3 separate regions of the Homo sapiens genome follow, and all the other regions are linked to region 2. Evidence: fine-mapped expression QTL. A gene starts in region 2. Each other region holds a variant in brackets. All regions are shown on one strand. Distances are between the middles of the regions.

Region 1 (5,344 bases), 25 kb before region 2:
GCTGGAGTGTAATGGTGCAATCTCAGCTCATTGCAACCTCTGCCTCCCGTGTTCAAGCAATTCTCCTACCTCAGCCTCCTGAGTAGCTGGGATTACAAGCGCCCACCACCATGCCTGGCTAATTTTGTATTTTTTATATTTTTAGTAGAGATGGGGTTTCACTGTGTTGGCTAGGCTGGTCTCGAACTCCCGACCTCAGGTGATCTGCCCACCTCAGCCTCCCAAAGTGCTGGGATTACAGGCGTGAGCCACGATGCCCATCTTTTTTTTTTTTTTTTTTTTTTTTTTTTTAATTTGAGATGGAATTTTGCTCTTGTCACCCAGGCTGTAGTGCAGGGGCACGATCTCGGCTCACTGCAACCTCCATCTCATGGTCCAAGTGATTCTCCTGCCTCAACCTCCTGAGTAGCTGGGATCACAAGCACACGCCACCACGCCTGGCTAATTTTTGTATTTTTAGTTGAGACGGGGTTTCACTATGTTTGCCAGGTTGATCTTGAACTCCTGACCTCAGGCAGTCCACCCACCTTGATCTCCCAAAGTGCTGGTATTATAGGCGTGAGTCACTGTGCCCGGCCCAAATCAGACTTCTTTAATGCTGAAGGCCACACTTTTTCCCACTGCATAGCACTGCTTACCAATCTAAATAGATTTCACAACTGATTTGGTAGCCTGACCCTTGGTGTCAAGCTGTTCGTCCTTCCACTGCTTCTATCCTGGGAGAAGTGTAAAGCTCATTTGCTTTTGTTCTTTTACAAGTAAAGCTTATAAATGATAATGTTTGTGTTTTGACATTTTAGTCTGTGCTAAAGACGCTGTGAGCAGTACTAGCAACACTTCACAATTTATTCTAAATCTCACACCAGGTTCTGCGGCATGAGGAATTTGAAGAAGGCTGCAAAGCTGCCTGTAATGGGTATGATACCTTGTTTCTTAAAATCTCCTTTAGGCTCTGACTACACCCGGATAACAGAAGACAGTTTCTCAAAGTGAGTATAAAGCAGTGGAATTAATTAAGGAGGCAGTAAATTAGGGAGGCAACTTCAGGAGCGTCGGGAACACATACTGTTTCTCTGCACTCTCATGAGTATAAAGCAGTGGAATTAATTAAGAAGGCAGTAAATTAGGGAGGCAACTTCAGGAGCGTCGGGAACACATTTCTCTGCACTCTCATACAACACCTGTGGGACACAAAGGGATTCTCCAGCTCTCTAACACCAGCCGGCTGTCCTGTTATTTAATTGATTCTGACTCTACCTGGAGTTAATGTCAGATCCTGCAAGTTAAGGGCTCAGTCCCAGAAGATTTTCCGCCACGTCAGGCGCCGGTCACAGTCTGGATCTTCAGGATTTCCGATGACCAACTACAAGTCAGGGCTCCCGCTCCTGCTTCCTTGGGTTTGATAGTCTGCTACAGTGGCTCATGGAACTAAGGGAAACGCTGGAAACACTTACTTACATTTACTGGTTTATCATAAAGAGTACGAGTCAGAAATGGCTGGACAGAGGAGATACACAGGGCAGGGCATGGGGAGTGGGTGGCAGAGCTTCCATGCTCTTCTGGGCAGGCTCCAATCCAGCACCTCCCTACGTTCAGCATCCCAGAAGCTCATGAGTCTCATTGTTCAAGCCTAATAGAGCCCAGTCTCCATCCCTTTCCTTCCCAGAGGTTGGTGGATGGGACTGAAAGTTCAGTCCTCTAATCATTTGTCTTTCTGGTGACCAGCCCCATCCTGAGTCTATGTAGAGGCCCCACTCTAAGTCACTTCATTAGCATAAACTCAGGTGTGACTGAAAGGGGCTCATTATGAATATAACAAAAGATATTCCTATCAGGAAATTCCAGAGGTTTTGGGAGCTCTGAGACAGGAACCAGGGACAATGACCAGATATGTTTCATATTATGCCACAAATGCAAATAAGTACATGCTCTAGATGAAGCAGCGGCTTTCCAGTATCTTTTTTTTTTTGAGACAGAATCTCACTTTGTCACCCAGGTGGGAGTGCGGGGTCATTATCCTGGCTCACTGCAA[C/T]CTCTGTCTTCTGAGTTCAAGCAATTCTCCTCCCTCAGCCTCCCTAGTACGTGGGACTATGGGCATGTGCCACCATGCCCAGCTAATTTTTGTATTTTTAGTAGAGACGGGGTTTCACCATGTTGGCCAGGCTGGTCTCGAACTCCTGACCTCAGGTGATCCTCCCGCCTCGGCCTCCCAAAGTGCTGGGATTACAGGCCTGAGCCACCACGCCCGTCCATCTCTTAAGCTTAGTACCGTGACAAGTTGGAACAGTCCAAGGCCTATTAGGAATTTCATGCTTGTTGATTGATAGTCAAGGAAATAACAGGTCAGTTGGAGAACTGTCTTTAGGATTCTGTTCCTTGCTTTACAGAAAAGGTGAACAAATCTTTCCTTCAGGTAGATGCTGGATAGTCTTTGGAGCTTGTAGTAGGGTCCCATGAGCACTGCCCACAGCTGCTTTCTGTACCATCTGAGGTCATCTCATCCTTAAGAGAACTTTTAGGACCAGACAGGAATGCTCATCTCTCTGTGCCCAGTAGTTCTCTGGGGGTGGCCTGAGGCTGACTTGTCTGTAGTCACTGAGTTCATTTACTTTTATTTTCTAGGCCTTATGATGGGAAATGGAGTAAAACAATGGTGGGATTTGGGCCTGAGGATGATCATTTTGTCGCAGAACTGACTTACAATTATGGCGTCGGAGACTACAAGCTTGGCAATGACTTTATGGTAAATACCGTTTTTTTCTAGCAGAGTTTTGGCTGGGGGTAGGTGGCTGGTTGTAAATTTGAGTAGAGTGCCAAGGGTGTGTGTGAGTGAAGAGATAACATTTGAGCAGAGACTCAAAAGAGGTCAGGGAGTTAGCCACGTGGATATCTGGGGGATGCGCGTTCCAGGCAGAGAATATTCTGGCAAGAGCCGTCAGGTAACATCTGGCGTGTTCGAGGAGGTGTAAGGAAGCCAGTGTGGCTGGAATAGAGAACGAGAGGGGAGCGTGGTAAGAGATGGGGTCGGCAGTGCCATGGGGTAAGACTGCAGGGGGCCTCCTAGGCCGTAAGTCACCGAGTGAAATGAGCCATTGGCGGACTTTGAGCAAAGGGAAAACAAGGCTGGCTGCAGTCTGGGGGTGGACTATAGGATGCGTTTTGGAAAGTTTACTTTGGCTGCAGAGTGGGTAATGGATTTACAAGACTGGAGGCAGAGAGGCCATTATAATAAACCGAGCCAGAAACAAGGCTGGTCTTCTCAAAGCACACGTGTACATTTCTAGGCACTTTGATTAAATGTAAGGAAACCTTGATAGTTTGCTTATTTTTGTTTTGTTTGTTAAAAAAGCAAGAACAGGTCACCTTAAATAGGTAGCTAGCTGGCAGACCCAGGTAACATCAAGATTTCTGTGGCTAGATCTTTAGAATTAGAAGACGTTATCTTTGGTGTTAAATGAATCAGACTTCACTGGCATTTCAATTTCTGTCCTATTATTCACAAAGGTCTGAATGTTTGTGGGATAAAACATTGAAAACCTGTTTTTAAATCACTAGAAGAAAATGTTGGATGCCAGTTAAATCTTAGGTGATTTTACCTAAAGGCAGTAGGCAATAGGGGTTGGGCTCATTGTCTTGTTCTGTAAAATATCTGTTGTGATCATGTACTTGGATGTACTGTTGTTTGTTGTAGGGAATCACGCTCGCTTCTAGCCAGGCTGTCAGCAACGCCAGGAAGCTGGAGTGGCCACTGACGGAAGTTGCAGAAGGTGTTTTTGAAACCGAGGCCCCGGGAGGATATAAGTTCTATTTGCAGAATCGCAGTCTGCCTCAGTCAGGTAATTATACCAGAACCAGTAAAAGCCTCTGTCTAAAGGCATCTTTGGTGAAAGGAGAGTGAGGGCTGCCTGTCTTTTTTTTGTAGAGTCTGTGTTCACGTGACGTGTCTTCCCCAGCCAGTGCTTTTACCTGTTATCGGAGAGACTACATTCTCATATCAGAACTTAAATACATAGCAGTAGGGGATCTAGACTAGTTCTGTTCTACTGGTAATGTAGTGATTTATGATTCTTTCATCTGTAAATAACAGAAAACCCAACTACTTTGAACAGTTATAGAATCTTTTAGCTCACAGAGCAGGCATTCTATAGGTGGGAAAGATTTCAAGGTTAGATGATTCACCAGCTCCCCACATTTTCTCTTTCTACGTTCTGTTGTTCTCTGCGGGTACCTCTCCTAGAACTAGTCCCCTCAAGGTTGCAGGAGAGCTGCCAGGAGCAGGTGGGGCCACATGCTCCCACAATCCCATCTGGTAGGAGAGGAGATGCTGACTTCTTTTTGCTTTTTTTTTTTGAGACTCTGTCAGTCCGGCTGGAGTGTACTGGCATGATCTCTGCTCACTGCAACCTCTGCCTCCCGGGTTCAAGCAATTCTCCTTCCTCAGCCTCCCAAGTAGCTGGGATTATAGGCGCCTGCCACCACGCTCAGCTTTTTTTTTTTTTTTTTTAGTATTTTTATTAACTTTTAAAAATTATTTGTTTTTTGAGACGGAGTCTTGCTCTGTCGCCCAGGCTAGAGTGCAGTGCTGCAATCTCGGCTCACTTGCAACCTCCGCCTCCCAGGTTCAAGTGATTCTCCTGCCTCAGCCTCTCCAGTAGCTGAGATTACAGGCACATGCCACCACGCCCAGCTCATTTTTGTATTTTTAGTAGAGACAGGGTTTCACTATATTGTCCAGGCTGGTCTTGAACTTCTGACCTCACTTGATCCGCCTGCCTCAGCCTCCCAAAGTGCTGGGGTGACAGGCGTGAACCACCGTGCCCGGCCCTTTTTGCTTTCTTTTTAGGAGCAGAAGAAAAACTTTCCTAGAATCTTCCAGCAAACTTCCTGTTCAGATTTGATATACTGTGCCTGCTCCTAAACCAATCACTGGCAAGAGAAATAGGATCACCCCCAAACCATTTAGCCATGCCTCCTCTGGAGCCGAGGTCAGTTTCCCAGACTTGAGCGTGGGTACTCAGGGATGGCATGGAAGTGAGGAGCCCCCACGCTGACTGCCACACAGAACAAGAAGGAAACTTTGCAGGGTTTGTTTTGTTGACTGCAGAGGCAGCCTCATCAGTGTTTCATTTTGTATTTAATGCCTGCAAATTCAGCTACCTGCTCTGACAAAACAAAAGCAAAAACGGGGAAAATGCTGGCGAATGGCAAGGGCACTTGTGCCGACTCCCTTACTTGGTGAACGTATGCCTGCAAGTGGGCCTGAGAAGGGAGTCCTGGAAATTCTCCTTCTTCACTGGTCGGCCTCCTGTCCCCGATGCCCCCATGCTGAGTCTGTAGAATGTTC
Region 2 (5,000 bases):
TCCTGTGATCATTAACAGGAGTAGAAGCTGGGCTCAGACACTCTGGCACTTGCATAGGTCAAGGGGTGTGTTGTGCTCTTGCAACAAATCCCACATAGACATCCATATGCATATTGTCCCACCGTCCCCTAAGCAGAAACCAGGGTTAAGTACAGAATAGTCCCGGGAACATTTTGGTTGCCCGGCCTTAGGTGAGCCTTTCTGGGGCTGGGATTTTGACACCATCTGCTCCATTGTTTCTAAACTGCTGTGTTCTGGCGCATCAATTGTTTCATCACATTATCATCACGGAAAGCTTGGTCTCCCTCAAAACATGAACCGGGTAGGCCCTGTGTTCCAGTGGGGGCTTTTGGACTTGACTTTAGTGTTTAGGAGGACAGAGTCCCTCTCCCCTCTGTGGTGCTGGGGTATTAGTAAATCAGCCTTGAAGAGATAAGGGGCTGGGGCCTCAACCTCCCAAGAGGCTGTCACTGGAGAATGGTCTCCTGCCCTCAGATCTTGGGCATTTCCACAGCACACTGTCCCCCTCGTCCTTCCAAATACCTACATACGCTCTTGTAATAGGAGAGCTGGGAACTCCACCCAAAACCATACAAAAAGTTAGTCTGTGTATTTGGACGCCTCCCCAGCACTCAGTCACCGAGTTTCTCCTTTCCAACAGCAGTCACTCTCATGCAGTTTAAGTGATTTATTGATGTCTCGGCTAAGCTTGCGACAGTTTCAGGACATTTCAGCCATCAAGGTCTAAGAAGCCCTTTCCATTCCCGAGGAGCCCTCAGCCAGCCTCCTTCTTCCTCATCTCCTCACTCTGGCCGCGTAGCCCCTCATGGCGTCCATCTTGGACGCCCCTTTGTTCGCGCTCCACGCCCCCCACTTCCTTCTTCGTCAGCTCCTCCACTTTGGCCGCGTAGCCCCTCATGGCGTCCATCTTGGACGCCCCTTTGTTCGCGCTCCACGCCCCCCACTTCCTTCTTCGTCAGCTCCTCCACTTTGGCCGCGTAGCCCCTCATGGCGTCCATCTTGGACGCCCCTTTGTTCGCGCTCCACGCCCCCCACTTCCTTCTTCGTCAGCTCCTCCACTTTGGCCGCGTAGCCCCTCATGGCGTCCATCTTGCACGCCCCTTTGTTCGCGCTCCACGCCCCCCACTTCCTTCTTCGTCAGCTCCTCCACTTTGGCCGCGTAGCCCCTCATGGCGTCCATCTTGGACGCCCCTTTTTTCGCGCTCCAAGCCTCCCACTTGGCCCTGGCTCTCACGTCTGAGGCCGGAGGGCCGGGGATGTCGCAGTCGCCCTGGGTGGCCTGTTTGTACAAGCCGTAGACCAGCAGCTTCTCCTGATCGCTCACGGGACCCTTCAGCTGCTTGAGGGCCGCGCAGCTCGAACTCCACTTGGCACATGGGGTGGTGGAGGCGGTCCCTGGTGCTAGAAGCTGGAGGTGGAGAGTTGGAGTGGCTGTTACTACTCGATCTCAGGGGGAGGAGACAGGCACGCGATGTTTGTGTTTTGTCAAGCACAGATTGCAAGCTCGGGGTCCAGCGTAAACCCCACCATGTTTGGGCTCACACGGCGCATTTTCTGGGGAGGACCAGCCGTCAAAAAGCGTCTAGGATCCGGAACGCTGCTGTCTGGAGGGGGCGGCGCGGCAGGAGCGCGTTGAGGGACTGTATGTGGCGCGAGCTGGGCGGGTGGGAGTGGAAGCCTCGCGTGGTGCGGCCGCGCTGGGTGGTGGGCGTCCCGGGGGAGGCGCTCGGTGGGGGTGAACTGTGTGCGGGGCACGCCCGGGGTTACCGGGTGAGGGTGAATGCGGGGCCGGGGAATCATGAGCCCGACCCGCTGGGACCCCGGAAGAGGGGCCGGGCAGGGGACGGTGCGGAGGGGTCTAGTGAGCGACGTCCGGGTACCTGAGGGCTGGTGGGAGGGCTCTGCCGGAAGGCGGCGCTGTGCGCTTGGCGCGCTCGTTCGTGAGGACTGCGCGTGCGCGGCGGAGGCTGTGGGCGGGGCCGGGCGGAGGTTGTGAGCAGGCCTAAGCGCGGCCGCCGTGGCTCCTGCGTCTCCCATCGTGCCGTGCGTCCCGCGCCGCGTTCGAGTTCTCGGAGGGGAGGGGGCGTTAGCCCCGCGCAGCCGCCGGCGTCGCCGCCATGGACCTAGGTGGGTGCCGCGGCTCCCCGGCCCCGGGCTGCGTCCAGCAATGCGCCACCAGAGCGGTGCTGCCCCGTCGCGTCTCCTCCTGTCGCGCACGCTCGCGCGGGCCCGGACCGAAACGTCCCCCGCGTCGGGGCGGGTCTAGGGGTCCCGGGGTGGCCTTGGCGGGGGGTGGTCCGGGTCCCGCCGCGCGTTGGGCCGCGTCTTGCCGCCTCCGGCCCCCTGCGCTTGAAAACACGGAGCAGACGTGAAGTTAGAGCCCTTGGAAGCGCCCGGGGCTCGCGCACGTGCTTTGGGAAACGGGCTCCCTCCGAGCACCCCTGGGCGCCCCGACGGCCTCATTTCCTGAACGGCAGCTGCGTTCTTGAGCAAGTGTCTTAACGCTCCAAGTGTCTTACGCTCATGACGTTTCCTCATCGACAGAGCGGGGAGAATGGAAGTGTGTCTCCCCACTGAGTTTTGGGCGACTTTGCATTGAGATCGCCGAGGTACAGTGTCCCTTGTGGGGTTGCGCGGGTCACACCCGCGGTGGGGGCGGCTGCGCTCCTGAGGTATCACTTTGTGAACCTGCGTGCGTCCGGATTCAGAATCTTACAGGCAAGGTCTGGGAGGGAGCCCATAGGAACTAGATGCTCCCTGCTAAATCTTGGCACACGCTGCTAAGACCAGGAGGCTGTTCTGGGAGAGCTGGGGGTGAGGCACCCCGAGATGTGTCAGCAGTAGTAGGCTGGGGGGAAATGGTCTGGTCCCCGCCCCCAGACAGCTTTTCAGGAGCGGAATGGCAGAGCTCTAAGGGCTTGGAGCCCCTCAGCCGTAATTGCTTCCCAGCCCCACCACATTCAGGCTGGGACACCCTCAGCAAATCGTTTCTGCGCCTCAGTGTCCTTATCTCTAGAGCAGGAATACTAGTCCTCAAAAGGTGATTGTGAATAGAAGAGATCTTACCTGTGTACCACCTAGCACAGTGTCTGGCATGGAGTAGGTGCTTAATAAACCTAAGAAGCGGGCTGTGGCAAGCACTAGTTAACCATCCATGATAGAGTACCGGAGTATTTTCCAGCTAGTAACCGCCCTGGGACTTACTACTTCAAACTGTGCGTACTTAATGCGCCTGGAAGGCAGGTGTTTAGGGCCAAACATCTGCTCAACTAAGCCAATAATGCAATAAAATTAAATTTACAGCGTCAGGAGGGACTATATTTTGGGACCCTGGGAGAGCCTCCTGAGCCAGAAAGAAGGGCGGTAACCCCCAGGGAGGTCCCCTTCGCAGCGTAACCCTCCCTGGGAGTCGGTCTCAGCCACTGTGAGATGAGATGGATTGCCTCCACAAGTGGGTTACATAGTGCTGAGCCCTTGGCCTGCTGCCGCTCCCATAAATGGTGGGAGGGGTAAGATGGTCCTTAGTCTCCTGGAGTCAGTGTTTTCTCTGCTGGTGTCTGGCCTGTGAAAATGGGGAATATGAGCTCTTGGGGGCATGACAGACTGAGGAAGGAGTAGCATCTCTCACTCCTGGGAAAGGGGAGATGACTCAGGAATGAGGAATAGGGAGCAGTGTTTGCACCCTCGTTTTAGTTTCTGGGCCAAAGGAAACATACCTGATAAAGACCTACATCCTTTGATGTTTCTGAGCTGGGGGAGGCAAAGAATAGTGACAAGATTCTGGTCTTGCCAACCATGAAAAGGTTTGGGGAAACCAACATTTACTGAGCACCTAATTAGACTCTGTAACTGGATTCTTACTGTAGCTCTATCTCATTTATCCATCATAGCGTCCCGGGGAGATGGGGTCAGGAGATAGCAGTGCCAACCCACTAGCAAGGGCTTGACTGGTATATATCACATGATCCCCAAAGGCATAACATGAAGTCTGTATTATCCCCACATATGCAGAAGGAAGGCTTGGAGAAGCAATCTGACCAAGATCACATCCCTTTTTTTTTTTCGGAGATGGAGGGGGAGTCTCACTGTGTTACCCCAGCTAGTCTTGAACTCCTGGCCTCAGGGATCCACCTGCCTCAGCCCCCCAAGTAGCTGGGATTACAAGTGCTAGCCACTGAACCTGGCCAGAATCACATCATTTTTAAATGGCTGAACTAGGATTTAAACCCATGTCTGATTAAACATCCCAAGATGTTTTCCATGGTAAGTCTGTGTCAATCGTTAGTTCCCTGAAGGAAGGCTTAATCTAGCACAGTATTTTCTGTATCTACTCCCTGGTTTCTCCCACAGAGCTAGGGCCATGAGTACCTTGTTTTTGACTGGAAGGAGCTGTGGGGTGGACCGTTTCCCTGAAAGCTAGAAGAATGTTTGAAGCCTGTTCCCAAGGCAAGTTTATAAAGAGTGAAGGCAGGGCTTGTCTGATTCCTTCTGTGCCCATTGCTCTGTGGCTATGTGATTGCTCTGTGCCCATTACCCTGTGGCTGTGTGACTGCTGCTGTGCCCGTTACCCTGTGGCTGCGTGATTGCTGCTGTGCCCATTACCCTGTGGCTGTGTGATTGCTCTGTGCCCATTATCCTGTGGCCGTGTGATCGCTCTGTGCCCATTACCCTGTAGCCGTGTGATTGCTGCTGTGCCCATTACCTTGTGGCTGTGTGATTGCTGCTGTGCCCATTATCCTGTGGCTGTGTGATTGCTCTGTGCCCATTATCCTGTGGCTGTGTGATTGCTCTGTGCCCATTATCCTGTAGCCGTGTGATTGCTTCTGTGCCCATTACCCTGTGGCTGTGTGATTGCTGCTGTGCCCATTATCCTGTGGCCGTGTGATTGCTGCTGTGCCCATTACCCTGTGGCCGTGTGATTGCTCTGTGCCCATTACCCTGTGGCCGTGTGACTGCTGCTGTGCCCATTACCCTGTGGC
Region 3 (5,000 bases), 140 kb after region 2:
GTGCACACGTGTAGTCCCTGCTACCCAGGAAATATTAGCAGGCCTGGTGGGCGCCTGTAGTCACAGTTACCCGGGAAATATTAGCGGGGCATGGTGGTGCACGCCTGTAGTCCCAGCTACCCAGGAAATATTAACAGGCATGGTGGTGCATGCCTGTAGTCCCAGCTACCCAAGAAATATTAGCAGGTGTCGTGGGCACCTGTAGTCCCAGCTACCCGGGAAATATTAGCTGGGCATGGTGGTGCATGCCTGTAGTCCCAGCTACCTGGGAAATAATAGCGGGGCCTGATGGCGCATGCCTGTAGTCCCAGCTACCCAGGAAATATTAGTGGGGTGTGGTGGCGCATGCCTGTAGTCCCAGCTACCCGGGAAATATTAGTGGGGCGTAGTGGCGCACGCCTGTCGTCCCAGCTACCCGGGAAATATTAGTGGGGCGTGGTGGTGCACGCCTGTAGTCCCAGCTACCCGGGAAATATTAGTGGGGCGTGGTGGTGCACCCCTGTAGTCCCAGCTACCCAGGAAATATTAGTGGGGCGTGGTGGCGCACGCCTGTAGTCCCAGCTACCCGGGAAATATTAGCAGGCGTGGTGGTGCACGCCTGTAGTCCCAGCTACCCGGGAAATATTAGTGGGGCGTGGTGGCGCACGCCTGTAGTCCCAGCTACCCGGGAAACATTAGTGGGGCGTGGTGGCGCACGCCTGTAGTCCCAGCTACCCGGGAAATATTAGTGGGGCGTGGTGGCGCACGCCTGTAGTCCCAGCTACCCGGGAAATATTAGTGGGGCGTGGTGGCGCACGCCTGTAGTCCCAGCTACCCGGGAAATATTAGTGGGGCGTGGTGGCGCACGCCTGTAGTCCCAGCTACCCGGGAAATATTAGTGGGGCGTGGTGGCGCACGCCTGTAGTCCCAGCTACCCGGGAAACATTAGTGGGGCGTGGTGGTGCACGCCTGTAGTCCCAGCTACCCGGGAAATATTAGTGGGGCGTGGTGGCGCACGCCTGTAGTCCCAGCTACCCGGGAAATATTAGTGGGGCGTGGTGGCGCACGCCTGTAGTCCCAGCTACCCGGGAAATATTAGTGGGGCGTGGTGGCGCATGCCTGTAGTCCCAGCTACCTGGGAAATAATAGCGGGGCCTGATGGCGCATGCCTGTAGTCCCAGCTACCCGGGAAATATTAGTGGGGCGTGGTGGTGCATGCCTGTAGTCCCAGCTACCTGGGAAATAATAGCGGGGCCTGATGGCGCACGCCTGTAGTCCCAGCTACCCGGGAAATATTAGTGGGGCGTGGTGGCGCACGCCTGTAGTCCCAGCTACCTGAGAGGCTGAGACAGGAGGATCACTTTAGCCCAGAAGGCAGAGGTTGCAATGAACTGAGATTGCACCACTGCACTCCAGTCTGGGTGACAAAGTGAGACTGTCTCAAAAAAACAGAAAAGGAAAGGAAATAGGAACAGAGATCCCACTGAAGGAATCCTGAGTTTCTCCTGAGAAGTATGAGGTTGGCTTTAGCAGCCCCCTGATTCCTCTTGCTGGCTCTCCTCTCGGACCTTCCCAAGCCATGCTCCTGCCTGGTTTCAAGCGTAGATATATGTGGCACTGGATTCAGCCCTACGGAGATCTGCCCGGCGACAAGCATGAGGGTTCAGCATTGAGCACAGGCCCCACCCTGGGAGTAGCCCCCTGAGCTCCCACGGCCTCTGGCTGGGCAGGGTCCGGAGAGCATCAGGACAGGCTCTGTGAGCTGGTAATCCAGATAACCGGACGGGAAATAGGTCCCAGTGAAGGATGCTTGAATGACATTCTTGCCAAGCACTTGTTTTGAGCCATTCTTCACCCTCTCTGGCTGGGCCCTACTTCCTGGTGATTTGTCTTTTACATTTAGGGAGCTATAGGACCACAGAGGAACAAATGGCCCTGTTGCATCTGAGGACCAGGGTAGCCTGTGAACCTGGGTCTGTCCCAGGACCTCTCCAAGGAAAAATCCCCCAAAGGCCAAAAGTGGTAAGGGAACGAGGGCAGGGAAGGCCCTTCTGGACAAGCTGAGGCAGCTGAACAGGGTAACCACGTAGAGACCATGAAAAACTGACAGGAGCTTACTCAAGTTTGCAAAGACAATGCTTTATTGTAAAACACAGGTACAGGACTGTCAGAATGGCAGTTGGCCAACTGTCAGACACCTTCTGTCCCGGGAGGACTGGGCTGGGGGTACTGGTTTCTCAGGGCAGCACAGCCCCTTTCTGCCTGAACTCACTCGGCCAGGGCCAAGCTCCTGGCCTGGAGCCCAGTGTCTCCTGGCCGAGGTGGTGCTCTGTGGTGGTGGTCAGGGGTCAGCTAGGAACACTTGAGCCTTTTTCCCCAGCTCCTTCCTTTTTGGTTTTCATATTTGAAATGTTTTGGCAGAACTGGTCTTTAAATCATCCCCTCTTCATTGTTCAGTTGTTGCTCTCCTCTCCTCTCAAGTTTGCAGAGTTTCAGGTTCTAAATCCTTAGCCAGAAAAGCCTGATGAACACCATGAGTTCTTTCTTTC[C/T]CTCTCTATTTAGTCAGCTCTCCTCTCCACAGACTTCTCTAAATCCTTCAGCTTCTTTAATTCAACTTCGTCCTCCTACCCTATTCTTTGTGCCAGGTATCACGACCTGGCAGTTATTCTGCATTCCAAATCCTGAAAATGGCTGTCTGATATCCTTCAAGGGTTTTCCCTTAAAGATAAGTTTCTAGGAAGGCAACAGAAGCCCTATGGCCACTTTACCCAGGTGGGACGGGCCTTGAGGAATCGGTTCACTGCAGCTCTGCTGTGAGGAGACGTGAAGGCTGTCACTCTAGCTGATGTTCACACTGAGCCTGGTCCCCACCATCATCTCATTGTGGGCCGTGCACGACCTTCTTCACCTTTATTCTGCGACCCTCAGTGGCAGGGACCTTGGTGAATTCATCATGGCTACCGACCATGCTCCCAACGCAAAGCACCGGGAAGGGGCTGCCTGGGCAAGGCCAGGAGTTCCAGCTGTCCTGACCCCCAGTCTAGCTGCTGGGTACCCTGCCTGGAGATATGCTGCTCCCTGGCCCCTGACCCCTTCCCCATGCTACCTTCCTTTCAGGATACACTCTTTGGAAACTCCTTTTTGGCTACCATTTTGTTTCAAAATACCAGAATAAATTGTGAAACGAACCAAGGTATATCTTGATACCCTTTGATATATGCCAGATTTTATAGAAAGTTACTGAATTCCTCAGAAAGGTGCCACAAAACAGGTAAGATGTCAGCCAAGGAGCCAAAACGGCCAGAGACTCTCCCTTGCTGCCCCTCCCTAGGCTGTACGTCATCCCCACCCTACCCCCACTGCCGCCTTCACTGTATCATTCCAAACCTCTCCAGTCCTTGGTGACTGGCAGTGAAACAGTGAGGATGAGCTTGAGAGTGTGGCCAGCTCGCCCGGAAGACAAGACCTGCCACAGCTCAGCTCCTCCTGACCCATCACTCCTGACTTCAGTGGGATGCATCATCCTTGGCTCTTTTTCAAGAGCTGTGACTTCAACATTTGATAGAACTTTAGACTGAAAGAGCCTCAGGGACAGGCTTGTTGCTTAACCAGTTTCACGATGTCCTGTGCTGTAACTGTTACTTGAGGAGGTGAGCTGCCTGTGCTTTTCCCAGTTGCCTCAACTTCTGACCCTTTAGGAGGAATTCAAGAGAGTCTATAAATTAAAATGCCTTGAAATTAAAAGAGAATGTCTGGATGTGATGTAACTGGATCCATATGCATTATTAGTGACTTGATGATTAGATTCAAGGTGAGCAAATGACATTCAGCCTTCTGCTGAAAGCAGAAAAGCAGACTAGATCGGATTAGCTTTTTATAACTGCCTCACTGGGAGGTTTTTGTTTTGTTTTTTGTTTTTTTTGTAGTAATAAAATTAAAAATGTTCCCCTTTTATGCAGCTGGATTTCCCTTCCTCTTGACCACTGCATAAGTTGCCTTTTGAAACAGACTTGTCCTTTGGCTTATAGGGGCCTTTACTTCCCCAGTTTTTAGAATTACATTCTAAAGATAGAAGCTATATGGGTACAATTGTCAGCCATGGAATTTGAGTGTAAGAGCGTTTGCAAAAGGCTCACGACTCATGAAAGACCACCCAGCATGTCTCACTCTACACCCTGGTCTTCCGGCACCTGCATGAGGGAGACTGTGTAAGGAACAGGGGCAGGTTTTCCAGCTCTGCCACAGCTTGAGGACATCTGTCTCCGACAGTGACAGATTCCCCCGCCTCATGCACTCCCTTCAGCGTTGGAAAATATTTTATGGATGCTTTACTGGTGCTAAAGAAATGTATTCTTCCATTTGAATAATATTGCAAGGGACGATTAACTTCTGTTTCTGAGAAGAGAATAATACAGGGTCAGGATAGAAAATTTGGAAATTATGGCGAGAATAGAGAAGCAGGAAAAAAGTCATCCAAATCAGAGATGAGGATTTGGGTATATTCTTTCTATATATTTTACATGGTTGAAATTGTATTTTTTTAAATACAGTTTTCTCTGCCTAGTTTTTAAAATTGAGATATAACTCATGTCACGAAATGTCACATGAAATTTATCGTTTAAAGTATACAGTTCAGTTGGTTTTCATATATTCATAAGATGATGCCACGATCCCAGCTGTGCAACTCCAGGACATTTCTGTTACCCCAGAAGAAATCCCTCCTTAGCAGGCAGGACTTTCAAGTTCTCTTTCCCCAGTCCTGGGCAGTTACGAATTGACTTTTGTCTTTACGGATGCCTGTTGTGGACACTTCACATAAACGGATGCTACGATGTGTGGTTTTTGTGTCTGCCTTCCCTCCCTCTGGACAGTGTCTGCGAGCCTTACCCATGATGAGGTGTGTGTCAGTGCATCATTTTGATGGCTGAATAGTGCACCGTTGTGTGGGTGATGCACATATTGTTGTCTCTTCCATCAGCTGTGGACATTCGGGTGGTTTCCACTTTTTCACTGTGTGAATA

Alleles and levels. Positions count from the first base shown, and alleles are read on the strand shown. Sizes are in standard deviations (SD) of each study's normalised expression. Not every link is listed here.
With allele T in place of C in region 3, the expression in spleen of the gene that starts at base 2,017 in region 2 is higher (small effect, 0.36 SD a copy in GTEx).

What was found. PIP is the estimated chance that this variant, and not a neighbour inherited with it, causes the effect.
Region 1: its variant is the best candidate, but not a certain one, in a credible set for the expression of GEMIN4 in blood mononuclear cells (TOPMed, PIP 0.56).
Region 3: its variant is the best candidate, but not a certain one, in a credible set for the expression of GEMIN4 in spleen (GTEx, PIP 0.79).

What each region holds. Positions count from the first base shown.
Region 1 is chr17:774,267-779,610 of GRCh38, reverse strand. It overlaps GLOD4 (glyoxalase domain containing 4), which reads left to right. Exons shown (of 9, transcript NM_016080.4): 2 at 867-916; 3 at 2,623-2,743; 4 at 3,692-3,836. Among named protein-coding and RNA genes, the nearest start is that of GLOD4, 5.3 kb to the left of the region's middle. The variant C/T (reference allele first, on the strand shown) is at 2,033.
Region 2 is chr17:749,281-754,280 of GRCh38, reverse strand. It overlaps GEMIN4 (gem nuclear organelle associated protein 4), which reads left to right and starts at 2,017. Exons shown (of 2, transcript NM_015721.3): 1 at 2,017-2,148. The coding sequence starts at 2,139. It also overlaps the pseudogene DBIL5P. RefSeq lists silencers at 1,638-1,897, 2,078-2,497 and an enhancer at 2,678-2,737.
Region 3 is chr17:613,843-618,842 of GRCh38, reverse strand. The region is part of intron 11 of VPS53 (VPS53 subunit of GARP complex); the gene reads left to right. Among named protein-coding and RNA genes, the nearest start is that of VPS53-AS1, 94 kb to the right of the region's middle. The variant C/T (reference allele first, on the strand shown) is at 2,529.